Homo sapiens: one gene and its partners. The protein of the gene in region 1 interacts with the protein of each later gene in a biochemical or structural test. Each region holds a gene or a part of one and is shown in the gene's direction. Other genes may lie near its edges. The genes, in order: SIPA1L2, ADGRA2, MMP24, KIRREL1, KCNT1, DENND5A and PDLIM2.

What was found.
Region 2: the proteins of SIPA1L2 (region 1) and ADGRA2 interact in a test that uses a peptide from one of them, tested with the Homo sapiens proteins (one large-scale study listed by IntAct).
Region 3: the proteins of SIPA1L2 (region 1) and MMP24 interact in a test that uses a peptide from one of them, tested with the Homo sapiens proteins (one large-scale study listed by IntAct).
Region 4: the proteins of SIPA1L2 (region 1) and KIRREL1 interact in a test that uses a peptide from one of them, tested with the Homo sapiens proteins (one large-scale study listed by IntAct).
Region 5: the proteins of SIPA1L2 (region 1) and KCNT1 interact in a test that uses a peptide from one of them, tested with the Homo sapiens proteins (one large-scale study listed by IntAct).
Region 6: the proteins of SIPA1L2 (region 1) and DENND5A interact in a test that uses a peptide from one of them, tested with the Homo sapiens proteins (one large-scale study listed by IntAct).
Region 7: the proteins of SIPA1L2 (region 1) and PDLIM2 interact in a test that uses a peptide from one of them, tested with the Homo sapiens proteins (one large-scale study listed by IntAct).

Annotation. Positions count from the first base shown.
Region 1 is NC_000001.11:232,619,977-232,624,065, reverse strand, and holds part of SIPA1L2 (signal-induced proliferation-associated 1-like protein 2), read left to right. Parts: intron 1-4,089.
Region 2 is NC_000008.11:37,841,592-37,845,694, forward strand, and holds the end of ADGRA2 (adhesion G protein-coupled receptor A2 precursor), read left to right. Parts: coding exon 1-764; 3' UTR 765-2,898; downstream 2,899-4,103. Other genes in the region: BRF2 (transcription factor IIIB 50 kDa subunit), read right to left, coding at 2,899-3,622.
Region 3 is NC_000020.11:35,225,314-35,229,939, forward strand, and holds the start of MMP24 (matrix metalloproteinase-24 preproprotein), read left to right. Parts: upstream 1-1,376; 5' UTR 1,377-1,425; coding exon 1,426-1,671; intron 1,672-4,626. UniProt on the Homo sapiens protein: Metalloprotease that mediates cleavage of N-cadherin (CDH2) and acts as a regulator of neuro-immune interactions and neural stem cell quiescence.
Region 4 is NC_000001.11:158,097,338-158,100,985, forward strand, and holds the end of KIRREL1 (kin of IRRE-like protein 1 isoform 1 precursor), read left to right. Parts: 3' UTR 1-2,925; downstream 2,926-3,648. UniProt on the Homo sapiens protein: Required for proper function of the glomerular filtration barrier. It is involved in the maintenance of a stable podocyte architecture with interdigitating foot processes connected by specialized cell-cell junctions, known as the slit diaphragm.
Region 5 is NC_000009.12:135,782,061-135,786,149, forward strand, and holds part of KCNT1 (potassium channel subfamily T member 1), read left to right. Parts: intron 1-1,963; coding exon 1,964-2,065; intron 2,066-2,474; coding exon 2,475-2,558; intron 2,559-2,700; coding exon 2,701-2,829; intron 2,830-3,249; coding exon 3,250-3,270; intron 3,271-4,089. UniProt on the Homo sapiens protein: Sodium-activated K(+) channel. Acts as an important mediator of neuronal membrane excitability. Contributes to the delayed outward currents. Regulates neuronal bursting in sensory neurons. Contributes to synaptic development and plasticity.
Region 6 is NC_000011.10:9,140,538-9,143,639, reverse strand, and holds part of DENND5A (DENN domain-containing protein 5A), read left to right. Parts: intron 1-154; coding exon 155-237; intron 238-794; coding exon 795-918; intron 919-1,531; coding exon 1,532-1,700; intron 1,701-3,102.
Region 7 is NC_000008.11:22,583,233-22,587,321, forward strand, and holds part of PDLIM2 (PDZ and LIM domain protein 2), read left to right. Parts: intron 1-1,588; coding exon 1,589-1,658; intron 1,659-1,784; coding exon 1,785-1,930; intron 1,931-2,088; coding exon 2,089-2,167; intron 2,168-4,089. UniProt on the Homo sapiens protein: Probable adapter protein located at the actin cytoskeleton that promotes cell attachment. Necessary for the migratory capacity of epithelial cells. Overexpression enhances cell adhesion to collagen and fibronectin and suppresses anchorage independent growth.

The DNA of each region.
Region 1 (4,089 bases):
TATACTTTACTGTGCTAAGATATTATGGACATAAAACAAATGTACATTTTAAGAAGATTAATATTAAAAATAAATAGATGTAGAAGTATTTTCTCTGCATCTCAAGGGCATTTGTATCTTTGAAATGTGTGGCCCCTGTGTAGAGACCACTGTTGTACTATCACTGGTTAGAGTTTATAGCAGTTGAGAAATGGAATTTCTAGGGAGCCTGTAGGGTCTTGTGAGGCAAGCGGAAGACAAACTCCACTCTTGATGGGCCTTATATTTACTGTGTATTTATTCTTTTTCCCGAAGACATTTCTGACTTTGGCCTGTTTTCTTCCAGAATTGCTTGTGGGTCTTGGTTTGGGGTTTCATTTATTGAGGGGTAGGAGGTTAATGTAATGGCGATGCTATTCTCCTTAGAAAGTTTCTAATTGAACTCAGCTGTTTTTTTGTTTTGTTTTGTTTTGTTTTTTGAGACAGAGTCTCGCACTGTCACCCAGGCTGGAGTGCAGTGGTGCGATCTTGGCTCACTGCAAGCTCTGCCTCCTGGGTTGCTGCCATTCTCCTGCCTCAGCCTCCCAAGAAGCTGGGACTACAGGTGCCTGCCACCATGCCTAGCTAATTTTTTTTTGTATTTTTAGTAGAGACGGAGTTTCACCATGTTAGCCAGGATGGTCTCGATCTCCTGACCTCGTGATCTGCCCGCCTCGGCCTCCCAGAGTGCTGGGATTACAGGCGTGAGCCACTGTGCCTGTTCTGAACTCAGCTGTTTAAGAAGCATCATACTATCACACTCAGACGAAAGCATTCCCAGGATCAGGGTATGTTAAAAGTTCAGATTGACAGCCTAGCTCTGTCTGTATGTGATTGGCCAGAACTGTAGCACACAGCCACCCGTAGTGCAAGGAATGCCTGGCTTCCCAGCCGTTAGTGGGTTGGGAATGAGTGAGGAGAGACAGCAGGGAGCCCTGCTCTTGTATCTCCAGTAACTTCCAGCTAAACGAGCACCATCCACCCCCACCCATCCTCCTGTTCGATTTTAATAATGGAACATAAGCAGCAAACAGGCAGGGACATTTCTGGTTTACTGCTGTATTCCCTGCACTTAGGTGGTTTTTGCCACATAATAGGCTCACAGTAAACAAATATTTGTTAAAGAAATGATTGGGAGTTGTGGGTTGAACGTAAAAGAACTTCCTTTATCTTGGCTTTTGTTGAACTAAATACTGTTGAGCAAGTTCTAATCATTATTTCTATTGTACATGATCTATCTTGAACAACAGTTTATACCTCATTTATGCCTTTCCTGGGTCGTTTGAAATGACCTGTGATTGAACTCTGATATGGAACTGGTAAAAATGTGGAAGTTTCTGAAGAGGGACTGTGTTCCATCTGTTACATCAAGAACTTTATAGCCCCATTCAGAGGGGTGTGGTTCCTGGGAGCCTGGGCACCCTTAGGTGGCCGCCTTTCATGAGAGAGTATGATTCACACCTTTCCCAGGTTTCAAAGTCTCATCTGTGCTGATGCCTGCATAGCCCTATTTGAATCCCATGAGGCTGCAGTTGACTTAAAAGCCCTGGCTGGGGCTTAATCAAGCTTACTGAACAGAAAGGATTTCTGAATTGTGTAGTACTGTCTGTAGTCCTTTAGCTCTCAGTCCATTAGCAGGGTTCATTTCTACAGGAAATCATGATGTTTAAAAACCCCATCAGTATTGTATAGTGCATCTTTTGTTGACTCAGTACATGAGGATATTATTTATGCCTTAAATGTGGTAGGTGCTCAGTAGCCATAGTCTTAATTTTATATGGTAAAAGTCTTTTATCTTTAATATCTTAACGTAGTGCTAGTTCTTATAATATGACATTAGAGGGATGTCATTCTAACTCCTATTTGTTTACATTTGTGTATAAGGTATGCTGTGATAAGTGCTGTAAGCAAGGCATACATGATAGTAGAAGCATCCAATTTATCAACCAATTTTATTTGAGGATCGTTGTAACTCATTTGTTTGGAATAATAGGTCATTTTTCCCATTTAAAATGTTTTAATTTGGGCATAGTGGCTCATGCCTGTAATCCCAGTGCTTTGGGAGGCTGAGGCAAGGATTGCTTGAGCCCAGGAGTTTGAGACTAGCCTGGACTGCAAAGCAAGGCCCCATCTCTACAGAAAATTTTAAAATGAGCCGAGTGTGGTGGTGCACACCTGTCGACCTAGCCACTGGGGAGGCTGAGGAGGGCCGATCCCTTGAGCCCAGGCGTTCGAGGTTACGGTGGGCTGATCGTGCCAGTGGACCCCAACCTGTGTGACAGAGTGAGACCCTGTCACAAAAAAAAAAAAATGTTTTAAATGACAAGAATAAGTGAAGGAGACTAATGTTGATTTATGAAGAGAATAAAGAATTGGGGAGAGATATTCTTAAAGGCGAGTGTAAAATGTTACCGTGCTTGAACTTTCATTTGTGTTCTCTCATGTATACTTAACGAGAACCTTATAAGGCTGGTGGGATTTTTTTCCCTTTTACAGATACAAAAACTAAGGTTTAATGAAAGTGTGGTTTTCTGAATCTGAGTCCTTATGTTTTAAACCCATTTCTCTTGGTTCCAGCTATAGTGTTCTTTATTCTACAGCTCACTTGTAAGGTATGGTAGGTTTCAATAAATCATGATGAAAGGAAAGAATGAAAAGACAGAAAGGAAGAAGGGAGAGAGGGAGGGAACTAAAGAAGGTGTGTGCATATAAGAATGGCGGAATTACCGACTCACTATCACTGAAAGGGGGAAGTGGAGGCTGAGGGTTGGGCTAATGAGCTCATTGTTCTGGTCTAAAAACTGCCCTGTTCTCTCAGCCAGTGAATTGTCTGTTATTAACTAGAAATTTTGTAATTTGTGGTGAGGTAGCAGTTTTACTGATTGAATCAGGTTATATATTCTTTGTTGGGAAGTGAGTGGGTCCTTCTGTGATCATGCAGAGAACATTTTTTTTAGCCCGAGTCTTTGCCAAGATTAAAAGAAATATAAGAGGAAAACAATTTTTGTTTTGCATTTATATTTTGCTAGATTTGCATAATCTTTGTTTAAGCCAGTTGAATGTGAATCCCTAAATACATTTCAGGCATTTAAATATTTAAAAGGATTCATCCACAGTACTTTACTCACCCAAAGAATAAGTGCTTACAACAAAGAAAATAACACCCTTGCAGATGTAGCCTATGTAGACTTTGTTCACCTTGTCATTGAATTATACAACATTAATAGAGAAGCTAGAATTTGAACATTCACTGAAATGCTTAGCTGGCTCTGTTCCAAAATATTGTTTCCCTGGTAGAGAAAGCAGGACAATTTGTTTAAAACTGGCAGTTTGCCAGTCAGAATAGCTCTGACGCAATCATTGCAGTAACTACTTTGCTCTGACTGCTAATTTTAGGGCAGTTAAATCTGGGTGATGTCTGATGGCTGCTGTCGCTGTGCGTCTGGTTATGTGAAGCTTTCTAAATTCATCCTCTTAGCTTGGCACCGTAACTTAGTTCTTTCTGAGATAAGCTGTGGAGCAGAGGGGATGTTGAGTCGGCACAGGATATGTGCATGGAATGAGGAACAAGGCCCTAGGAGAGTTTCAAGAGACACTGCTTTCATCTTACTACGCTCTTTGTTATTCCAATAGCAAAGGCTTAGCACATCTGTACTTCCCTTGCTGTAGCACCCTGGGAGGTGTTGAGGAAGGTGGAGAGAAGTGTACATCGAGACACCTACCTTCATGGAACAGGGTTCTGGCAATATGCACTTGCTTTCCTTGTCATCCCTGCAAGCATTAGTGTGTTTAAAAGTGAACTTTTATCTTCTTCCTTTTTGGAACAGGTAAAACTACGGAGAAAAATGGTAATTTAAAAAAATCTGGCCGGGCGTGGTGGCTCATGCCCATAATCCCAGCACTTTGGGAGGCTGAGGCGGGCGGATCATGAGTTCAGGAGTTCAAGACCAGCCTGACCAACATGGTGAAACCCCGTCTCTACTAAAAATACAAAAATTAGCCAGGCTTGGCAGCGCGTGCCTGTAATCCCAGCTACTCAGGAGGCTGAGGCGGGAGAAACGCTTGAACTCG
Region 2 (4,103 bases), on another chromosome or scaffold:
CCCCTGCCTCTCCCGCGGCCCCCCATGCCCCGCCCCGGGCCCTGCCCGCCGCCGCAGAGGACGGTTCCCCGGTGTTCGGGGAGGGCCCCCCCTCCCTCAAGTCCTCCCCAAGCGGCAGCAGCGGCCATCCGCTGGCTCTGGGCCCCTGCAAGCTCACCAACCTGCAGCTGGCCCAGAGTCAGGTGTGCGAGGCGGGGGCGGCGGCCGGCGGGGAAGGAGAGCCGGAGCCGGCGGGCACCCGGGGAAACCTCGCCCACCGCCACCCCAACAACGTGCACCACGGGCGTCGGGCGCACAAGAGCCGGGCCAAGGGACACCGCGCGGGGGAGGCCTGCGGCAAGAACCGGCTCAAGGCCCTGCGCGGGGGCGCGGCGGGGGCGCTGGAGCTGCTGTCCAGCGAGAGCGGCAGTCTGCACAACAGCCCCACCGACAGCTACCTGGGCAGCAGCCGCAACAGCCCGGGCGCCGGCCTGCAGCTGGAAGGCGAGCCCATGCTCACGCCGTCCGAGGGCAGCGACACCAGCGCCGCGCCGCTTTCTGAGGCGGGCCGGGCAGGCCAGCGCCGCAGCGCCAGCCGCGACAGTCTCAAGGGCGGCGGCGCGCTGGAGAAGGAGAGCCATCGCCGCTCGTACCCGCTCAACGCCGCCAGCCTAAACGGCGCCCCCAAGGGGGGCAAGTACGACGACGTCACCCTGATGGGCGCGGAGGTAGCCAGCGGCGGCTGCATGAAGACCGGACTCTGGAAGAGCGAAACTACCGTCTAAGGTGGGGCGGGCGACGCGGTAGACGGGCTGGCCACGCGGCTCGTTCCCCCGCTCCTCGGGGCCCTCCAAGGTGTCTCCGTAGTCAGCAGGTTGGAGGCAGAGGAGCCGATGGCTGGAGGAAGCCCACAGGCGGATGTTCCCCACTTGCCTAGAGGGCATCCCTCTGGGGTAGCGACAGACAATCCCAGAAACACGCATAATACATTTCCGTCCAGCCCGGGGCAGTCTGACTGTCGGTGCCCTCCCAGGAACGGGGAAGGCCTCCGTCTGTGTGAAAGGGCACAGCACATCCCAGGTGCACCCTCCCCAAGTACTCCCACCCCGCCTACTGTCCATGCGGCCTCACTGGGGGCCATCAGCCTCACCAGCAAAGCAGAGATGAGAGCGTGGGAACTGTGTTCTTTCCTCCCTGCCCTCTACTGATTTCAGCCCAGCCCCTGCCTAGATCCTAGGTCCCTTTTCCTCCCGAGTTTGGCTGGCACGAGAGCTAGCCCAGCACATGAAGCAGGTGATGTTAAGTCACAAGGTGCTGCTTTTCAGATCCACTATGCAAGAGGGGAGGGTGGGGCCACGTGAAAGGCAGCTCTAGACATCAACCAGTCCTGGGGGAGGGGAGTGGGAACCGGGCACAACTAGGAACAATGCCACCATTCCCACAGGAGTGGTACTTAAACCAGACAGCAGGGTTCAGAGGTGGCACACCGGGACAAAGCTGAGGCCCTGCACCTCAACAGCTGACTGCCAGGTGCCTGTGGGTGAACTGAGGGGAGTAGAGGGAGAGGGCAGGTGGAACTGGGGCAGAATCTAGTCATGCCCTAAAGCTAGTCCTGTAAACAATGGTGCCCCAGAAAGCTGCAGGTGGTGTTTGGAGAAGCAGTTACTTTTCAGTTACAAGACCCATCTCCCTAGTCTCAGCCTTACAACACCACGGGACTAAGGAAGAGCACTTCCTTGCCTCCGTAAGGCCAGAGGAAGAACCATCCCAATCATTTGATCTCCAGCTCCACAGTAGAGAGAAACCTACAAAATGTCAAACCAGCTTCCCGACTCCCAGGAGCTCAAGCCAAGCCCAGAGGCAGTGGCTGGGGTCCCTGCAGGTCATGAGGGGCCTATGCCTTTACTCCTTTTAAACACCAGCACCCGTCTTTTCCCCAACCTAAAACCAACCACCAGCATTTCACTACAGGACCAAATGGAAACCGAGGGAACCCTGGGTCTTGGGAAGAACAACAGGAAACCAAGGTCTGACCTAGGGTTCCCTCCCAGTCTTCACATCACTCTGGCCTCATCACCAAGGTGACAGAGGACACAGGGGAGGGGGAAAACCCACACACACTCCTTGGAATGGGTCCTGTTATTTATGCTTGCTGCACAGACATATTAGAAGAAAAAAAAAAGCTTTGTATTATTCTTCCACATATGCTGGCTGCTGTTTACACACCCTGCCAATGCCTTAGCACTGGAGAGCTTTTTGCAATATGCTGGGGAAAGGGGAGGGAGGGAATGAAAGTGCCAAAGAAAACATGTTTTTAAGAACTCGGGTTTTATACAATAGAATGTTTTCTAGCAGATGCCTCTTGTTTTAATATATTAAAATTTTGCAAAGCCCTTTGAGCTACTGCCTTAGTCTACCCACTGTCCTTTTGTTATGAGGTAGAGGATCTCATGACACCATACACACAAACCCATCATTGCCTGTGAATGCACGTAGGGCCAGAATTCCCCAGTTCCCGCTCCTCTGAGGGTTGATACTGCTGGGAATGCCAACCACTCCACAAGCAGAGGGAAGCCCCCTCAGGCCTGCAGGAGGAGCCGCAGCAGTGTGTCCAATTCAAACCAGCAGCAAAGAGCCTGACATTTTCCCATCCATCTATGAGGAAAGCCATCTCACAGAACATGGACATAGGCAACTTGCTCTCCCACACCAAGGGATGGGAATCTCTCCTACCTATAGTCATCCCTGCACTCCTGACTTTACTCCAGGACCCAGGGTCCAACTAATGGCAGAGCCCCTCTTGGTTCCTTCAAACAAGAAAAGCAATACCTACGGACTGGTGTACACTTCCATCCTTGGTTATAACAGGAATGTTATCAAGCTGTCAGAACAGGATGAAGTGCTCCCAGTGGATATCCATCAGGGAGGGTTAGGGACACTCGTGGCAGCCTGTCTAGCAGCCTGGGCTCTCTGAAAGTCCCTAACTTCCTGAGGGGTACGCAAATACTGTTCTATTTCACTATCAGAAATGTTCTCATCTCCAGTGACAGTGGAGACAGGGGGTACAGGGCAGATCCGCTTCGGGGACTTCAACATGCAGGGTGGCAAGAGAAGGGCAGGACTGGCCGGCCGCTTCCCCTGGGGTAAACCTAAGGAATTATTTCCCACCTCCCCTTCTCCTTGCCCCTGTCCCCACCCCGGTGGCTCCTTCTCTCGGGTCTCCACTTCTGCTGTCCCATCCCGAAAGGCAGAGCGGACCAGTGACTGGCGGTGCTGGAGAAGGTCACCGATGTGCTTCACCACAGACCGTTTGTCAAGTCTCAGAACTCGTAACCAGGCCAGCTGCTCAGCCATCCGCAGCAGCACAGCCAGCAGCTCCTGCAGGCGGGAGGACGCCGGGTAGGGCAGGTCCACATTTGCCAATTTACAAAATCGGGCAAGGGAACATGAAAGCCGATCTGCAGGCTGCAGCGACTGCCAAGCCAGGAAAGTCGCAGCAGTGATGACGGGCAAGGGATGCCTCCCGGTCACCAGCCACGTCTCATTTGCCAGCTCCACCAACTGCATTGTTCGAGACAGCATCTTCTCTTTGTCTTCCACGTATTTGGCTGGCACAGAAGGTGAAGCTTGGAACAGTTTGAAGCTGAAATAACCAAAATGAGGGTTGGATCTTAATGATATAGGGGCTGCTCTCCCACAGTGAGGAAAGACAGCCCACTCAAGATGGGGAAGCTATTCTGCCCTCAGGAATACTCAAGCTCACTGGGCAGCAAGTTAATAAAGGTAGTGAGAGAAAACAGGGCGTCTTCCGCTTGTTAGGGGAAGGTGGAGGGATGGAGGAGAGCACGAACATTTATTGGGCGCCTCCCAATCACCATTATTCTGAGTGCTTTACAACGTTCTCATTTAATCTACGTGCACGTGCACCATCTTATGTGCATGTATAGTTAAAAAACTTTCCCATAGTCATCCAGCCAGGCAGTAACCAAGCTTCAAATACAAGGCTATTTGACACCAACAGCCTCTACTTTCAACGTTATTTATCAGAAAAAAGAAAAGAACATAGCTACTTCAAATGAGAAAAGAGCCAGGCGCAGTGCTCACGCCTGTAATACCTGCATTTT
Region 3 (4,626 bases), on another chromosome or scaffold:
TGCTGAAAGCAATCTTATACAGTAATAGTAGCATCATTTTATAAAAATGGAACAGAGCCAAGATATGAACATAGGTCTGACGCTAAAGCCTGTGCCCTTTTTTCATCTCCAAATTACCACGTAATCATAAAATACTATTTTCACACATCATCCTGCTTAAACACACACATACACACACACACACCACACACACACAACCTTTAATGACCACCCTCCCCCATTTTCCTTCAGAACACAACCCAAATTTATTATCCTAGCATTCACTGTCTTGTACAACTTCCCTCACTTCCCAACACTTTCCTATAGGAACCCTGTGCTCCAGAGAAACTTATCTGCCGCCTCAGGCACATCCTGTACACCCTCAACTTCCTCCCTGAAATGCCCTCTCCTCTCCCCTCCCCTGGTTTAAATCCAGCCTTTCCTTCAGGTCCTAGCTAGAGTCCCACCCTCCTCCATTACACTTTTTCCTAACTTCCCCAGCCCCTCATCAGGTCTCCCTCGACCCCTGGAGCAGCCGCCTGTATCCTTGTTGACACGTGGTGTTTGCCATTCTGTTTTTCTTTGCGTTTATGTTTTCTCATCAAGCTGTAAACCTCTGCACTCCAGGAAATCGGCCTTCTCTTTTTTGTTTTTGTTTTTGGGTGTTTTTTTTTTTCCTTTCAGCATCCCAAGTAGCCCAGAGCCCTACAAATAGAAAGCGCTTGATAAATATGGGTTGTTTTGGATGAAAGATGATCTTCCCAGCTGGATGAGCTCTTTCCCTCTAGGGGTGAGGGACTGAGCTTCACCTCAACTTCACCTAATGTCTCACAGGAATGCCCCCTCTTAAACGCTCCTCAGGTCTTCTCTACCCCTTTCCCCCACCACCCCGGCCCAGGAGAGCCACTCAGAGCTCCCTCTCCGGAGTCACCCTCTCAGACCCAGGGCTATTTCTTTAGCTTGCTCTCGAACCCCGCCTTTACCCCAGAGCCGCTCCTCAGTCTCCTCCCCCAGGCTGCCTCTCAGGCCCCCTCTCCTCCAATGCCACTCCCTAGGACCCTCTCCCCAGGGTTCCGGACCCCCAACCCCGGATATGTTCCCCCAGGGCCATCCAGTTGTTCTACCTCCAGGATTACTGATTTAGCCTCTTCCCCCTCCTGCTCAGGGCTACCCCCAGACCCCGACCTCCAGTTCCACCCCTTCGGACCCTGCCTCTAGAACTGTTCTTTTAGCCTCTGCAACCCCCTCCCCAGCGCCGCTCCGCGGCCCCTGCCCCAGGGCTGGTCGGGGAGCCACTGCCCTCGCAGGTCCCGCCCGGGTGCTGCCCCCGCGCCCCCGGCCGCCCCCCACCGGGGCGGGGCGCGCGGAGGCGGGGGCGCGCTGGCGGCCGAGGCGGCGGCGGCGGCGGCGAAGGCAGGCGGGCCGGGCGCGGGCCCCGCCGCCGGGATGCCGAGGAGCCGGGGCGGCCGCGCCGCGCCGGGGCCGCCGCCGCCGCCGCCGCCGCCGGGCCAGGCCCCGCGCTGGAGCCGCTGGCGGGTCCCTGGGCGGCTGCTGCTGCTGCTGCTGCCCGCGCTCTGCTGCCTCCCGGGCGCCGCGCGGGCGGCGGCGGCGGCGGCGGGGGCAGGGAACCGGGCAGCGGTGGCGGTGGCGGTGGCGCGGGCGGACGAGGCGGAGGCGCCCTTCGCCGGGCAGGTGGGGCTGGCGCGCGGGGCCGGGGCGCGGGCTCGGGGCATCCGGGCAGGGCGGGGGGCGGCACCGGGGACGGGCCTGGGCCGGGCCGCACCTACTGCCGAGGTCGCGGAGGCGGCGCGCCGGGGGTCCGCGCCTTGGGTCCGGGCTGGCGCGGCCCAGGGCGGGGGCTGGGGAGGGCCTCGCCGAGGGCCGCCGAGGCCGGGAGCTGCTTCAGCACCGCGGACAGGGGCAGCGGGCGGGGGCCGAGCACGAGGGTCGGGTTTGTTGTGTTGGCAGTGGGGTGTGTGGCCTGCATGACTATGTGCGAGGGAAACCGTACAACGCCTCGGAGTAAATAGTAAGCGCAGCCAGTCTGTTGTGGGTTGGGAGAAGAAACCGAGGATGTTCAAGCTGGAGAAGGGGGAGGGGGAGGGCGGAGGAAGGACTCGATCACTGTCTTCGTAGCTGAAGGGCTGTCAGGTGGAGGTAGGATAGACTTGTTCTAGCTTGGCCCCACAGGGCAGAACTAGGGCCAGCGGGAGTGGGGGTTGCAAGAAGACAAATTTGGGCTCGATATAGGAAGAAGTTTGTAACAATTGGAGCTGCTCAACCAGCTTAGGAGGCGGCGAGCTGCTCATCACTGGCATGTGCAAGTAAAAGCTCTCGGAGGGGATTGGATGGAGGCATGCATAATGCTTGCATGGATGCATACATCATCATCACAATAATGCCAGCTAGCATTTACTGAACACTCACTATGTGCCAGGCCTGGTGCTATGTTTTATACGAATTATCCAATTCAATCCTCATAACTACTCTATGAAATAGCTGCAATTATTATCCCCATTTTACAGATGGGGATACAGACTCAAAGAGCTTAAGTAACTTGCCCAAGGTCACACAGCTAGTGAGTGATGGAATTGGAATTCTAACCTAGGCAGGCTGACTCTAGTCTCCCCTTATTTACCCATGACCTTATCCTATATCTCATGGGGGGTGCAGTTGGACTAATTTCTCTAGTATCTTCCAACCTAGAGGACTGCAATATTCTAATAAATGATGTTGGGACAATGGTGTTTTGCTGAGGAAAATCAGAGTGATAGCCTCGCCACCCTAAGAGATGGAGTATATTTGTTGAAGCAGGCAGTCTGTTTGTTTAGAAGAATCTGCCTCAAGAGATATTCTTAATTGGGCATGGAGCTCAGGGGGTCATACGTGCACTGAAATTGCGTACAAATTTGTAAGTGCAAATGTGTGTATTTCTAGGCGAGGACCCCTAGATTTCTTCAGCCTCTCAAAGGGTTACAGGTTCCACAAAACAACAAAAAAGATATGGTGTGTAAAAGAACCTTTAGTGCCAGTTGGCAGTTGTCCTCCAAAGATTTTATAATTGCTGGTTGACTTGTTGTGGAAACTTTGCTTAGCCTCTTTGTGTTTTCACATGTGTTTTATCACATGTTAAAGTAATGCATTTCCTAAGTTTATACCCTAGAAGAAAGATTGCTTTAGACTGCCTGAGTGCACAGGATGAGGTGGAAAGACCCTGGCCTGGGATTAAGGAGGCCTGGGCTCTGATCTGACCTTGGCCCCCATTGGTTTGTGTGACCTTGAGCCATTTCCTTGCCCTCTCTAGGCTTGAATTTCACCATGTCTAACATAAAGAGATAGAGCTAGACAATCTCAACTCTGAAACTTTTTTATTCCTACAATATTTCAAGCATTAAGAGGAAGCTAGTCCTTACCTGTATCAGTTTTATAGGCTTTGATTATTCCACCTCTTAGCCTTTGTCTTTTTAAACTTAAGTTTCCCCCTATGACACGAGACCCCTAGAATAGCCACACTCATTCTCTGGGTCATTTTAGTTGTCCTTTTCTAGATACCTTTTGGCCCTAATTTTCAATAGATGTCAACTTGACCATTGTCTCCAGATACAGGACCCTACGGTTTTGCATAAAGGAAGGTTGGTTTCTTCTTTGCTCTCCTGGTCCCATCCTGCTTCCCCCTTCCCTCTGTCAGCTTTCCTGATCTCAACACACTAGGCCACTGCCTTTAGGGAACAATCTATAATAGCTCCCGGAGCCTTTTCCTGGGTCAAAACTGATAGCCTGGAACACAACACCCTGTATGTGGATTATTTTTATCGGAGTGCATTACCTTACATTTCTCCACCTTGACGTTTGTCTGCCATCTTGCATTGCACTCAGTAACTTCCTTCAAGCATTCGCTCACTCTCTCTCTCCCTTCCTCCACCTCTTCCTCCTTCCTTCTCTTTTGGCATAGCATTTCCCTGTCTGAAAGGGCTTAATATGATCTGAAGTCTTGAAATTTTCACTTTGCTATATTTCTTCTGGATCACTTATAAAAAATTTAAGTGAGACAGGTCCCAGCATGGTCTCTTGGGGCCCCCTGCACTCTTAATCCCCTTTCATTCACGGAAGTGACCATTTATATCTATCTATTGTTTTCTAAGTGACAAAAACATCATCCTTAATTTGACAATGACTCCATTTTAAATGTCTAATACATTGTCCAAAACTTCCTGAAAGATAGACAAATTATATCCACTGCTTCTCTCAATAATTTGTGCCTAATTATCCTTTCACTGAACACTAGGGGATCACTTGATTGACACCTTATAGAAATATTGTTGCTTTTAAGCCGGCAGATAATATTGCTTACTCCTCTTTCTGTCTTTTAAGCCCTCTGGAGTCTGTCTCCACCCTACCCCTCCATTAGCAGGCCATATTTCCCACTGCTTATTGATAACGCATCCTTACTCGACAAGCTCATCTCTCCTTTACCCTTAGACAGGCTGCCCATATTTCTCTGGACATTGTCACATAGTTACTTCTGCACCCCTACCCGTTCATTTGAAACCTTTCCTTAAAGTTTCAGCTCAAGCCCTGCTTCTCCAATAAACTTTCCCTGATTTCTCTAGTTGTCATTTTCTTCTCTCTTCTCCAGGAAACATTTTT
Region 4 (3,648 bases), about 75 Mb from region 1:
CATTTTTGTTTTGGGTTTGGCTAGATTCTCTTATTTATCCCCTTTTAGCTTAAGTATTAGTTTCATTCTACTGAAATGATGGAGAGAGGGCCTAAGGTTACTAGGTAATTGAGCTGATGGTGCAGGGAGAATTGTTGAGAAAGGAAGCCTAGTTTCCAGAAGCCTGACACAGAGCTACTTCACTGTCCTCTACTCCTTAACAAGGTAACTGGAGCCTCTTGGGTGTCAAACAAGCACCCTGGAAGGCACAGGGAAGCATCAGCAACCAAGGTAGTCTCTGCCCTCTGTAACTTACGTGTTGGTGCATCAGAATCTGAATTGGAACCTACCTGATGGGCCCAGTGGAATAGCTTTTCTGGGGAGTGGAAGGCGTCCTTGATCACAGAGCTTTGCTGTCGAATCCTGGAGTCCTGCAACATGGTGATGCCTCAGTAGTTGGTGATCCTGATCACCTTTGGTGGCTTGTTTTAGTGGAAAGAGCAAGGGACTAAAGGTCAGGAGACCCAGGACCCAGTCCTGAAGCTGCAAAGGTTAGATCTCGGCCTAACTTTCTGTTCATTGCCCCCAATTTGTCTGGCCTGTAAAATGAAGGGGGAGGGTTGCATAAACCTAAAACTATTCTGGTTTTGTTATACCCATAGGGTTGGGGGTAGGGATGGGACTGCCCATTGCTGGCAAGGAACTGGGAACAGTAGCAAGCATGGTGAGGGCTGGAGAGCTGGCTGGGGGGGTTCTCTCCTGTTCAAAGAAGCTTTCACCATGGGCTTCATTATCTTGTCAGAAGTGAATTAGTTTCCACCAGGGACCCCTTTATCCCAAACAGCAACACAAAATACACCCTAAACCTCAGAGTAAAATTGATGTGGGGCTATCCTTTGGCTATCGGGTCATCTGTGCTGCTCCCCACTCATTTCTGATGGGTTTGCAAAGGTGCCTTTTGCCAGGGCAGGACATAGTATGCACATAGGGATATTGTTATGTGCCTAGGTTTCAGGCACTCCTTCTGTAGGGGAAAATGGGAGGAGCCTTCCTCCACCCTGATCCTTAGGAACATTCCTCTGGCCCAGGGACAGCTTGTTCTTCTCACCAAACAGGTGAAGCCTGCAGTCCAAGGTGCCTGGAGCCAGAGGTCGGGGAGTAAGCACAGCTGCCCCTGCCTGAGAAGGAGCAGCTTGCAAGGGGAGCCGGTGGAGGGAAAGGGGTACAACAGCTTTGGAATACATTCTGGATCTTGAGGAGGATCTTGTGATTTTGGCTGAGCCACGGTCACTTCCCTCGTGAAGGACCCGCCCTATATCCTAAATTCTGGATCCCTCAAAGTCCAGCCACAGAGTTTGCATGAAGCAAAAAGCCTAGTAAGTGAGAAAGGAAAGGGGCCAGGGATGGGAGCAGTGCTGTGCTGTTATCACTGTCTTGCTTGGAATGAAAACATCTGAGCACCCTGTCTTCAAGCGGTACGCTCTCCCCTTATTCCAGCAGGGCTACTTTCCTCTTCACTCTGATGAGGGGAGCTTTATCTGCTTTCAAAATGGAGCACGTCGCACTGGAGTTTCGTGCCCTCTCGTTAACCTGTCAGGAGCCACAGGGCTCCATAAAACGGAATCAGTGTCTCAATATACATGACCTATGTTCATAGCAATGTTCAGCCATTTGGGTTTGAAGAAAACCACATTAAAGCCAAGACCCGTTTGGAGCGAACTGCCTTGTTCTTTGCTGTGTGGAAGGTTCTGTCCCTACTGCTGAACTCCAGTTCCTCCCCAAGCACCCTGGCCTCAGAAATCCTGGCTTCCCCAAGTTAGTGCTGTCTGACCTGAGCCAGGCCACTGCTTGGTGCCTCTACAGGCCACTGTGCATGTTGAGAATTGCCCAAAAGGATTAGTGAAGCTCCTGACCCTGGCGAGGCCATAATGAACACTGAAGTGCACAGGCCAAGGGATGTAATTGAAAGGCATTTATTTTTGTGAAGATGCTGTAAAATTAGCATTTAAATATCCCATTCCCTTCTCTTGGCCTCCTCCTATCCCCCTATGGTATTTCTCCTCCTCTCCTCAAGGCCAGGCTTTTTGTGAAAGGCATTGGCTCATCTTTGTCAGCGTGGTCCTGACGTTCACCTCTGGGCTGCTGGAGAGGACTGAGAGATGTGTGGTTTGGTAGGAAGGGGGTGTGTGTGGGGGTTAGTGGGGAATCCCATTTTTTTGCATCACTGTGAGGTAGCTTCAGGCCCTGTCCCTGGAGAAATAATTGCTGCGCAGAAGTCACAGGCCATACTGGGCAGTTCTGGTACAAACCTGCCCTTATTAATAATAACAATAATAATAATAACTCCATTTGCATAGAACTGTCACTCATTCCTGCCAGTCTGCTGTCCCTACCCTGGTTTTTTGCTGGCCCCAACCACTGGCCTTGTTGAGTATCGATGGGCCCTGAGCTCTTCTGTTTGCTTTTGGAGCTCTTCAGATGCTGTCCCCCCTGAGAATACCCTAACTCTGGGGAAAGAGCAGCCAAAATCCCAATACAGTAAAACTCCACACAATCTTGTTAGCAACAGTGACCCAGAAAATTTTGAGAAGTCCAATTTCACCAGAAGAGGCCCAGGGCTCCCTGTGGTCACATTTTCTACCCAGCCATTCTTGGCATTGCAACCTCCATTTCTAGCTCCTGTTGAATTTTCTCCACCCAGACCCCAAAAATAAATGGATCCATGATGATAATTAAGAGAAGAGAAAAAAAGATATTATTTTTGTTAGGACAAACCATTGTAGGTTTTTAGCAATGTGTATCTGTGTGTCCCTCACACCTTTTCCTATTCTACTTTTTTTTCCTTTTTTTAAAAATATTATGTACTATATTTTTAGTCTCAAACACACTATATATTATATATATTTAATTTTTTTATATATATAAATATAAATGTTTTAAAAAGTACCATGTTTTGTGTTATTTAATGCATTAACGGCTAGTTACTTAAAAGCCTGCCTGGCTTTGGGTGTTAGTCCTGGTTTGGGGAAAAAACAGGTTTGGATTGAAATTGCAGAAGCAATGTTTGTGCCACCTCCAGGCCGTGGGGCAAAAACGTATTCTCTAGTTTGCCACTTGTGCAGAACCCTGAGGCCAATTATGGCAGTTCAGGGACAAACAGCTGGAGGCTTCTGCTATTGGAAAACAGCATCCAAATGTTCTGTGCCAAATCGCATTATGGGAATGGGAAAAGGGGAGACTTTTGAATCTGAGATCTAGATCCCAAAGGAATTGGGACAAGTGTGTAAGAATGGCTGGTTTTGTTTATTTAAAACGCTGTGGTTTGGGTAAAAAGCAAAGTTACAAGGTCTCCAACCTTTTGAACTTGTAGTGAAGCAGAATGAAAAAACAGATGGTGCAGCAGTGCACACACACAGAGGCCATCCTGCTGAGAAATCCTAAATTCTCTGAGTTGAGTTCCCAAGGGTTTCAGTTTGCTCATTTCTCAGGAGTGTTTGCAGATACCTGAAATAGTTTTCAGATAATGTTTTGTTTTATTTTGTTTTGGACTTTTATTTTGTTTTGTTGTAGAGGCTATGTTGCCCAGGCTGGTCTTGAACTCCTGAGTTCAAGTAATCCACCCACGTCGGCCTCTGGAGTCGCTGGGATTACAGGTGTGATCCACTGTGC
Region 5 (4,089 bases), on another chromosome or scaffold:
ATTAGCCGGGCGTGGTGGCTGTAACCCCAGCTACTTGGGAGGCTAGGGCAGGAGAATTGTTTGAACCCGGGATGCAGAGGTTGCAGTGAGCCGAGATTGTGCCACTGCACTCCAGGCTGGGCGACAGAGCGAGACCCTGTCTCAAAAAAAACCAAGCAAAAAAATGAAACTATTATTAAGGATGCTGCTGGTGGGGTGACATGCATCTCCCCTTGAGGGCTGGCTCCAGAAGGCTCTCAGAGCCCCGGTGTGTGAGAGGAGTCTCTCCCCTGAGGCCCACCTCCCCTGCCGTCCACCTCCCCTGGTCTCCAGCACCCAGGACTCCTCCACCACTTCATTGCTTTCACATGGTCAGCCTGTGTGATCTCTCCTCCTCACCAGGAGCCTTCCTTCAGGCTGGCTCTGCCCATCCTGGGGCTGCACGGTGCCTGTCCTGCTCCCTCTGACCGGGGGTCTCGTGCTCAGGAAGGGCTCATCCGCTCCTGTGTGCTCCTGTCTTCACTGTCACTTGTGAATGGCACCCGCTCAGCCCCTGCTGAAGCCCTCCTGTCCAGAAAGCAGGAGGAAATCTCTGGAAGGTCCTGAAACGTCCAGCTTTTTCTTTCCTTCCACGTCTCTCTCTGGCCCTGTCGTGGTTCTTGTTTCCTGTTTAGCGTTGTTCTGAGTAAAGGAAAATTAAAATTGCAAGTTGTTCTGGAATTTCACGTTCGTCTCCGCGAAGTACGGCTGGAATTCTGGATGCAAATCACCACGATTGCAAACTCACACGCCCATCGCAGCTCATCGCACCTGGTTCTTGCCCCAAGAGCGGAAACGCCGCACGAAACTAATTCCACTGTTTCTCACGCCCCAGCCTTCCCACCGGCCACTGATGAGTAAGGGCGAACCCGGAGGAAAAGGGGCTTCTGCCTGCTTGTCCTGTCGCTGTCGTGTCTTTTACCTGTGAATCGAGTTCTGGTTCCGGGGGGAAGTGTGGCCTCCGTGGGCGCACACGCCTGCCTGTGCACACTTGCTTGGAGGCCGAGCTCCAGGGTTGGGGCCCTCCGCTGAAGAATGACCCGAGAGTTGGCCACGGCCGGGTCCGGAGCCCGTGGATGTACCGCCTCACGTGACAGAAGGGCCTCTGCAGATGGGATTAAGTCACGGGCCTCGAGATGGGAGATCCTCCTGGAGCATCCGGCAGGTTCACGCCGTCAGGGTCCTTCTAGGGAGAGGCCAGAGGTCCCCATCCGGTGGGAAGAAGCTGCACGGCCAGCTCAGAAGAGGGAAGAGGGAGCCACAAGCCAAGGCAGGTGGCCTCCAGGAGCTGGAAAAGGCAAGAGAAGGAGGCCCCCAGGCCTCCAGAGGGAGCGGGGCCCTGCCCAGGCCTGGATCCAGCCTGAGACACCTCAAACTCCCGACTCCAGAAACGGGAGAGAGGAGACAGGTGTCGTTTTAGCTGCTAAGTTTGCGGTCATTTGTTACGGGAGCCCCAGGAAACTCAGTGGGTCCATTGCAAGCCTGGAGCACAGGGACGGGGAGGCCAAGGACAGCAGGGAGCCCGATGCTTGCTCCTCCTCAGCCCAGACTCCACACGCCCTCCGGCACCACTTACAAAACACCGGGGGAGGAGAGGATTATCAGGAGGATTTGGAATTTCGGGATGGCAAGAGCAGGGCGCTTGACCAAGCGCAGTGCCCATGGCAGCCGCCGGGAGTCCACCTTCTCATCAGAGCCCCACATCACTCCTCCCGGGCTCTGGCCCTGAGTGTGTCTGGGAAGATAGAGCTGGTTCAGGCCTGCCGGTGTATGCACACATGCAGACACACACTGTGTACACGTGGACACACACACCATGCACAAATGTGCACACAGGTATCATGCACACATGTACGGTGCACACACAGTGCCCTCGACCCCGTGGCTGCCGTGCCACTGGAGGGACCTCGGCACCAGCCCATCTGAGGCCCCTCCTTTCCCACAGAGGGAGCGAGAGAATGGCTCCAACCTGGCCTTCATGTTCCGCCTGCCGTTCGCCGCCGGCCGCGTCTTCAGCATCAGCATGTTGGACACACTGCTCTACCAGGTCAGCGGGGAAGCGGCAGCAGGAGGGTGGCGCCTGGGTGGGACCCCCGTCATGCCCTCAGCTCTTCAGCCTGGTCCCTGTTCTGAATGATAGGACTCCCTCTGAATGACCTTCCCTGGATTCCAAGGAGACCTCTGGGCCCTGTCCTTGCCCCAGGGATTTCTGGGCCCTTTTTGACCTATGGGTGCCTGGCAAGGGAGTTTTCTTAGAAAAGGCCTCCCAGAACTCTGCCTGTGGGTCATGTGGTGCTTGGGGACCTGGTGGTTCTGTGTGTGTGTATGCATGAGGGGTGGCGAGCCCGTGGCCGGTGGGGTATGGACCTGTGTCCCACGCCCGTGCCCGCGTGCCTCACTGTGGCTCCCTCCCTCCCTCCCTCCCTCCCTCCCTCCCTCCCTCCCTCCCTGGCCAGTCCTTCGTGAAGGACTACATGATCACCATCACCCGGCTGCTGCTGGGCCTGGACACCACGCCGGGCTCGGGGTACCTCTGTGCCGTAAGTGCCCCTGGCTGCGCTGGGCTGGGGGCGTGCTGGGCTGTCCAAGTGGGTGGATGGGCACCTGCCCCTGATTCACGGTGGCCAGGAGGCTCTGGGTGCTGCCACCTGCCCCAGCCAACTCAGGGTTCCCACCCTGCAGATGAAAATCACCGAGGGCGACCTGTGGATCCGCACGTACGGCCGCCTCTTCCAGAAGCTCTGCTCCTCCAGCGCCGAGATCCCCATTGGCATCTACCGGACAGAGAGCCACGTCTTCTCCACCTCGGAGGTTCTGGGGCAGCCTGGGGGCTGGGACTGTGGCAGCCCCTGTCCTGTGTGACCCACAGCATCCCCACCTTCCGGGGGCTGGGACTGTGGCAGCCCCTGTCCTGTGTGACCCACAGCATCCCCACCTTCAGTGTCAGGGACCTGGGCTAGATCAGCTTTGCTATTGCTGGCAGCTCCTTCCGTCTGGTCCGTGTGCCCACGTGTAGCGCTTCCAGCTGGAGCAGCCATGACCCCTACCGGGGGCAGAGAGGCTCAGGGGAGTCTTCAGGAAGAATACGGGCAGCCCCTGTGCTGCAGTCCACACAGCAGCAGGCACCGTGCCCACCAGCCCTAAGCATGTTCCGTGCAGACCCCAGGCTGAGGCGGCGTGGGGGGCAGGGGTGCGCCCACAGGTCCCAGACTGCGCCTGTTTCCTTTGCAGCCCCACGACCTCAGAGCCCAGGTAAGCAACCCCTCCGTGCCCACGCAGCTTCTGCGGAGCACCAGAACATCGCAGCTTCACATGGAGAAGCCTGCCAGGCCCCACCCACCCACCCACCCACAGGGCCCTGGGAAAGCCGAGGCAGGAGCGGGTCCCACGGATGTGTCGGCCCCAGCACGGCTCAGAGAAGGCTGTTGACACTCACTCCCTCCTGCACTGGTGGTGGGGAAGCTGAGGCCTGGGGGGAGTAGCCTGTGAGTTTGGACACCAGGTGCACCCCCGCCCCCTCCCAGGCCCCACCAAGGCAGGCAGCCCCCATGCCCATCTGGCCTGACCAGCCCCCAGCCTCCCAGGCCTTTCTGAAGGTGCCACCCAGGTGGGATGCCTACCTCTTCCCAGCACCCCACGACCCACAGGCTCTGGCACCCCACGTTCCCCAGGTTCGGGGCCTCCAAAGGGTGTGTTTGCAAGAGGGATCAGGGCTCATCTGCAGATGGAGAAATTGACACGCAGAGGGGGTGACCTCTCAGGGCAAGGCCAGGATGTGCTGGGGTCCAGATGGGTCCCAGGCCGGACCCACAGAAATAAGGGCTCAGAGAGGCGAAGGGAGCTGCCCTCAGCAGCCTGGCGAATCCCTTGACCAGGCCCGGGCAGGGTGGGTGGCCCGGCGATCTGTGCTCAGGAGGAAACCAGGCACATTCTTTCCAGAGGAGGAAGGCACATGCACCCTGGGGTCTGTCGTCGTCCTCTTCCCTAACACCCCCAGCTGCTCCCACGCAGGCCCCAAGCTGCAGAGCCCACACCTCTTCCTAAGCCCCTGCCCCAAAGCCCGCGACCCTC
Region 6 (3,102 bases), on another chromosome or scaffold:
CAGCAAAGCTGGGTGGGCAAGCGCCTCTGCTTCCTAGGGTCCAGCTGCCCTGCCTCTCCTATGGGCCCTCCCCGTGTCCTCAGTCTCCTGCTCAGGCAGCTAAGCACTGTTAGCCTCAGAGATTGGTTAGGGATGTCTGCTTGATTTTTATTAGAGCTGAACACTGGGCAGATCCAGGAGTCCATCGGGGAGGCAGTCAATGGCATTGTGAAGCACTTCCATAAGCCTGAGAAAGAGGTGAGCCTTCCTGCCCTCCAATCCAGGGCCTTACATTGAATAAGAGAGAATAATTTTGTTTTTCCGATTATCTTGTTATGCTCTTCCAGGCCCATGTGCTGTGGACACCCTAGAGTCTTGTAGAGTGTGTGCCTCAGCTAGTTGGAGATGGAGCAGACTCCTTCCTCTGGGGGCCTTTGCCTCAGGTTACCCTGTTTTCCCTCCATACTGATGACCCAATAGAGTCCCTGGGCCCCTAGTGAACAGTGCCTATTCCTGTCCTCTTCTAGATTTGCCTGGGTCTCCTTGAATAGTGGCCACACTGGCTTTGTCCTCCAGTGGAGAATCTCCTTGTGTGTGACCCAGATCCATCATCTCTTCTTTCATCCATTTATTCAGCAGCTCTTCACTGGGAGCTGCTCTGAGCCAGGCACTGTGCCAGGTGTTAGGGAAACAGACAAAGTCCTAGCCTGTCTTTTGCAGCCCTCCCAACTCTGGGCTGTGGGTTTAGGGATGCAATGGTGGGAGGGCAGCTCGGCTGAGACAAGCCTGGCACCCTCCCCTGTTTCCTTACGTAGCGAGGCAGTCTGACGCTGTTGCTCTGTGGAGAGTGTGGCCTTGTCTCGGCCTTGGAACAGGCTTTCCAGCATGGATTTAAATCGCCCCGGCTCTTCAAAAATGTCTTCATTTGGGATTTCCTGGGTGAGTTGAGCTGGAGTATGAGGGTGGGAGAAGCATGTAGAGATATAAGGGGACTCACCAGCATAGCATGGGTGCTGACCACTCTGAGAGGCAGAACCCAAATTAGGTGACTCTCAGATCTCATTTGTTTGCTCTGGTTTTTCTTGAAGGGAGTGACAAGAGCTCTCCTCCCCGTCCTTGGTAAATGCTTACCTCTTGAGAATTGCACAGAAAAGATTCTTCTAGACATCTGTTATTTAGTATGGACTTAGTCCTGAGTCCTCACACTTTCCCCTTATAGATCCCAAAGTCCAGTTGAGCGTATTGGAGCCCCAAGCCCTGTGTTGCACCCATATGGAGAATTTTCATGCAAGAAACCATCCTCAGAATTTTTTGTGTCTTCAGACTAGGGAAAAGAACATCTTTATATCAAGGGCCACATACATAAATTTAAAAAATAAGGATAGGGAAGCTAAGGATCATTTTGAAACATGACCAGTGACATCAGAACACTTGTGCTATTCTCATTAAGTTACCTGTGTGGACTTGGAGAGGCCCATGGCAAGTGGCCTGTAGGACCGTCAGGGTTGGTGTTGAGAGCCTTTTCACTGGCAAGCTTTTCTACTCTTCACAGAAAAAGCACAAACCTATTATGAGACATTAGAGAAGAATGAAGTAGTCCCTGAGGAAAACTGGCATACAAGAGCCCGGAACTTCTGCCGATTTGTCACTGCAATCAACAATACTCCCCGGAACATCGGCAAGGATGGCAAGTTTCAGATGCTGGTGTGCTTGGGAGCCAGGTACTGCAGACCCAGGGCCCAGAGTGCACAGCGGTTAGCCTTGGTGGTGGTGTTGGAGGCCTGGTGCAGTGCAGGGGTGAGGAATGGCTCATCAGGTGCCCTTAGGGAGATGAGGCCTTAGAAGGTTTCCTAGAAGCCCTGAATTTCCTCTGTGTATCGTGTATGGTCACACACTGCATAAAATGTGCTGCGTAACAACATTTGTCAGTGACGGACTGTTTATGGGATGATGGTCCTATAAGATTATACTCTGTTTTTACTGTACCTTTTATAGGTTGAGATGTTTAGGTACCCAAATACTTACCATTGTGTTTTAGTTGCCTACGGTATTCAGCACAGTATTCCTTCATTTTTATTCTTCAGGCTGCTGTGGCAGGAAGCTCCAGGAGAAGTGTAGAAGAGCAGGCCTGGGGGCTGGTGACAGGGCTGTACCGATTTGTAGCTTAGGAGCAACAGGCTAGACATATAGTAGGCTCTACCATCTAGGTTTGTATGAGAACCCTATAAAGTTCGCATGGTGACGAAACTGTCTAATGACACATTTCTCAGACTGTATCCCTGTCATTAAGCAACACGTGACTTATGTGTGTGGTGATCTGTCGGGGTAGGGATGACAACGTGTATGTAACTCGGGGCAGAGGGGCCCCATTTTGAAAGGAAAGATCAAAATCACACCACTGGGGAAGTTTGAAGCAGAGTATATCTAGTTATTCCTTCATTAGACATTTAAATGGCCTTATGGAAGTTGGTAGGAAGACAGCTGAATAAAACGTGGCCCCTTACCATTTATTTATTTATTTATTTATTTATTTTGAGATGGAGTTTCGCTCTTGTTGCCCAGGCTGGAGTGCAATGGTGTGATCTCGGCTCACCACAACCTCCGCCTCCTGGGTTCAAGTGAGTCTCCTGCCTCAGCCTCCCGAGTAGCTGGGATTACAGGCATGCGCCATCACGCCTGGCTAGTTTTGTATTGTTAGTAGAGACGGGGTTTCTCCATGTTGGTCAGGCTGGTCTTGAACTCCTGACCTCAGGTGATCTGCCTTCCTTGGCCTCCCAAAGTGCTGAAATTACAGGCGTGAGCCACCATGCCTGGCCAACATTTAGAAGCTTACTTGTCCTAATTAAATACAGAGCATGGAAGAAGGTTTTGAGGGTCCAAAAATGAAGTGTACATTCATACAATATGCTGAAAAGGTAGAGGAGAAAGATCAGAGAAGACTTCAGGGAGGAGTTGGTATTTAAGTGAGCCTTTAATGGAAGGAAATAACAGAACGTGGCAAGGGCAGTAATAGGAAACACAGTTGAAAGGAGGGTAGGGCCCCTGAGCTGGGACAGAGAAAGATTCTTTTCATATTAGTACAAAGTTGTTTCATCAGGGGACTGAAGTAATATTAATCTGATA
Region 7 (4,089 bases), on another chromosome or scaffold:
CTGGTGGGGAGCTGGGCCTACTTGTCTGGAAGGAGGCAGGCGGGTCTCGCCCTTTGTTTAACTGGGGAGACCCCTGAGAAAGGGATCAGGAGTGACGCGCTCAAAGGCACCCTGGCCTCCAGTGGGCAGGGTGCACAGCTGGCCCAGTCACCGTGGGCTCTAGAACTTGAGGCAGCTCACTTTCCCTCTCTGGGTTTCAGTTTCTCCATGGGTTAAAATATAAAGGATTATTTCTATGAAATCAGTAATCAGGCCGGGCGCAGTGGCTCACACCTGTAATTTCAGCATTTTGGGAGGCCGAGTCGGGCGGATCACCTGAGGTCAGGAGTTCAAGACCAGCCTGGCCAATACGGCGAAACCCCGTCTCTACTGAAAATACAAAAATTAGCCGGGCATGCTAGTGGGCACCTGTAGTCCCAGCTACCTGGGGGGCTGAGGCAGGGAGAATTGCTTGAACCCAGGAGGTGGAGGTTGCAGTGAGCCGAGATTGCACCACTGCGCTCCAGCCTGGGTGACAGAGCGAGACTCCATCTCAAAAAACAAAAAAATCAGTAATCTTCCCCCAAATCAATCTACAAACCCGAGGCTGAGTGATATCAGTGACAAAGTCCAGGCAAAATAGAAAAAAAAAAAAAAAAAAAAAAAAAAAAAAGGGCAGGATAATGTGAGGACTCTCTAATAAAACTGAATGTTTGAACTTTCTGATGAAGTTATGTACGTTCTACTTTTTAGAACCAAACTATCCTTTCTTTTTTTGGGGTGGGTTTTGCTGTTGTTACTGTCGTTTGAGATGGAGTCTCACTCTGTCGCCCAGCCTGGAGTGCAGTGGTACAATTTTGGCTCACTGTAACCTCTGCCTCCCTGGGTCAAGCAATTCTCCTGCCTCAGCCTCCCAAGTAGCTGGTGTTACAGGCATGCGTCACTATGGCTTGGCTAAATTTTTTTTTTTTTTTTTTTAATTAGAGATGGGGTTTCACCTTGTTGATGACCAGGCTGGTCTGGAACTCCTAACTTCAAGAGATTCACCCTCCTTGGCCTCCCAAAGTGCTGGGATTACAGGCGTGAGCCACCGTGCCCGGCCTTGGTGTTTTTTTGAGACAGAATCTCGCTGTGTTGCCCAGGCTGGAAGGCAGTGGCACAATCACGGCTCACTACAACCTCCATCTCCTGGGCTCAAGCGATCCTCCCACCTCAACCTCCCAAGTAGCTGGGACTACCGGCATGCACCACCATGTGCAGCTACTTAAAAAAAAATTTTAGTAGTCATGAGGTCTTCCTATGTTGCCCAGGCTGGTCTTGAACTCTTGGGCTCAAGTGATCCTCCTGCCTTGGCTTCCCAAAGCGTTGGGATGATAGGCGTGGGTCAATGTGCCTGGCCAACTGTCCTTTCTTTTAAGGAACCATGGTTGTCATTGATGATAGTTGTTTGTCTTGAGTTTGACAAAGTTAAAAGTTGACAACCGGATGTCCAAATTTTCTGTAGCTTTTACTGGTGTTGAGAACTAGATCTGGGAACAGTTTTGGCCTCTTTTGGGGGTTGCAGGGTGCAGGGCCCCTGTGACATTCCCTCCCTCTGTTGCCTTCTCAGGTCTCAGGCTACGTCTCCAGGGCAGACCAATGGGGACAGCTCCTTGGAAGTGCTGGCGACTCGCTTCCAGGTAAGCTGGTGCCCTCCCCTGACAGCCTCAGCACCCTGATCACTGGTGCATGAAAGTGAGGCCCGAGGGCAGGGCGGCCTTGGCGGGGCAGCCCTGCCTTTCCTGACACAGTCACTCTCTCCACAGGGCTCCGTGAGGACATACACTGAGAGTCAGTCCTCCTTAAGGTCCTCCTACTCCAGCCCAACCTCCCTCAGCCCGAGGGCCGGCAGCCCCTTCTCACCACCACCCTCTAGCAGCTCCCTCACTGGAGAGGCAGCCATCAGCCGCAGGTGAGTGTGCCTGTGAGTGGGTACCCTGGTCGCCTGCGCTGCCAGCTCCAGGCTGGCTCCTCTGAGTCTCAGGAGCTCTGCTTGGGAGCCCGGGGCAGCATCCTCCCTGGGCAGGCTGGGGGTGGCCCTGGCACACACTGTCCCTTTCCCACTTTCAGCTTCCAGAGTCTGGCATGTTCCCCGGGCCTCCCCGCTGCTGACCGCCTGTCCTACTCAGGCCGCCCTGGAAGCCGACAGGTGAGGCTCCCTGGGGGAGGACAGGCTGGAGGAACAGAAGCACCTCCCGTTCCTGTGGGTTGCCAGTGCCCCGGGACTGCAGGCGGCCAGGCCCACCTGGGCAGCCATGGCCTCCTTCTCCTGGCCACAGGCATGCTCTGCTCCTGAGCCAGGGAGGCCATGCTTCTGGTCGTGGGCCACCTGTGCTGTGCCCAAGACCTGCCCAGCAGTGCCCAGTAGCCCGTCCATCTCCTGCACCCCTCCCCTCATCCCCCTCCCCTCCCATCCTGCTGACTTCCTCCCTGCCCAGTATGTTTCTCTTGGGCTGTGGCTGAAATAGTTTCGCTGCTGTTGTTGGGATGATTCCCTTTCGTCTCTGGCTGCATCTCTCGAACACATTCCTCCCCATTCCAAGACCCGGGCCTGCCTGACTCCCACCCACACCCTCCCTTCCTCCTCTGACTCAGCCCAGAGATGCCCCAGTGGGACTGCGGTTCTGCCTTGAGCGCTCTTGGCTTATTCTGTCTCCTCCTCCCCCTACCCCCGCCAGCTCCCCTGGACTCTCTTTCAGCCAGGTCCCAGTGGCCCCTGGTGACAGCCTAACCCCCTTCCTGGGTGGTATTTCTCCTCTTCAACGGTGGGGGATGGTGAGGGAGTGAGGCAGCCAACAGCCCTGGGCCGCAGCTGCTGGGGACGGCGTGGGGGGCACGTCCAGCCTTTGGGGTGATGGGGATATGGCCCAGCTGCTGAGCCCTACCTTTGGGTTGATTCTGCATTCCAGAAAGCAGAGCCTTTGGGGGTGGCCAGGGAGGGCACTAGAACCCAGAGGCTCTGGAGGAGGAAGGAGCAGGATCTTTCTGGGGGCCTTCCGAACAGCGGCTGCCTAGTGACCCGCTGCGTGCCCACCCAGAGGCCAGCCTGGCACTGTGGCCATAGAGATATATTCCATGGGTCCCCTTGTTAAGGAATTGAAGATGCAGTTGTAGAGATAAGGCAAACTTGCAAAACAATTTTGGAGCAATTAGGCACTAAGCAGTGTGGTATTAATTACAAAAGCAGGAGGCGTTCTGGGAGGGGAGGGGAAGGAAGGCTGTGTGAGGAGTATTGCTGGACGTTAGAGGTGGTGGTGAGAGGGTTTAGGGAAGGATGAGCAGGAGGCCCGACATGCTGGGAGATGGAGAAACACTGGTCCGGGCGACGGCTGATGTATTGGGGCTGGGGGATTTTTTAGGGGGAACCTTTGTTCTGAGATGAGCCAGGAATGAGCTTGTTTCAAGAGGGCTGGTCAGTGTCAGTCCTGGCTCTGTTCCGCGACACCTCTGGTGGGCTGTGGTCTCAGCAGGACCCACGTGCTCAAGGGCAAGCCTTCCCGAGCTTCCCCATCGTGTTGCCCCCAGTCCAGGAAAATGAAGGGTGTGGGAGGTACAGAGGCATGGCTCCCAAACCAGCGGCAACACCTGAGAACTTGTTGGAAATGCAACTTCCCAGGCTCCAGCCTACACCCGCTGAATTGGGCATGGGGCTTGTGGGTCACGAGCCCAGAGCTGGGTGTGGGGAGACTCACTTGGGTCGGTCCCACCTCTGCCTGACGACTTGGACCAGCCCCCCTTCCTCTCCCTGGGCCTCAGGTCAGACTAGACGCTCTGAGTTCCCTTCTCTGACCTTGATGACTCTGCTCATTCCTTCGGCAAATATTTGTCGAGCAGCTGCTTCATGTCAGACACTCATCTGGGCTCTGGGGATGCAATCGTGGAAAAACAGAGTGACACCTCTGACCCTATGGAGCTGACGTTCTAGTCTACAAATGAGGCTGTGGTCCCACGGGTGCACAAGTCTCAGGGTCCCACAGCTGCCTTTTGAGAATCACTGTGTAGCTGGGTGCTGTGACATGTGCCTGGAGCCCCAGCTACTCCGGAGGCTGGGGCGGGAGGATTGCTTGAGCC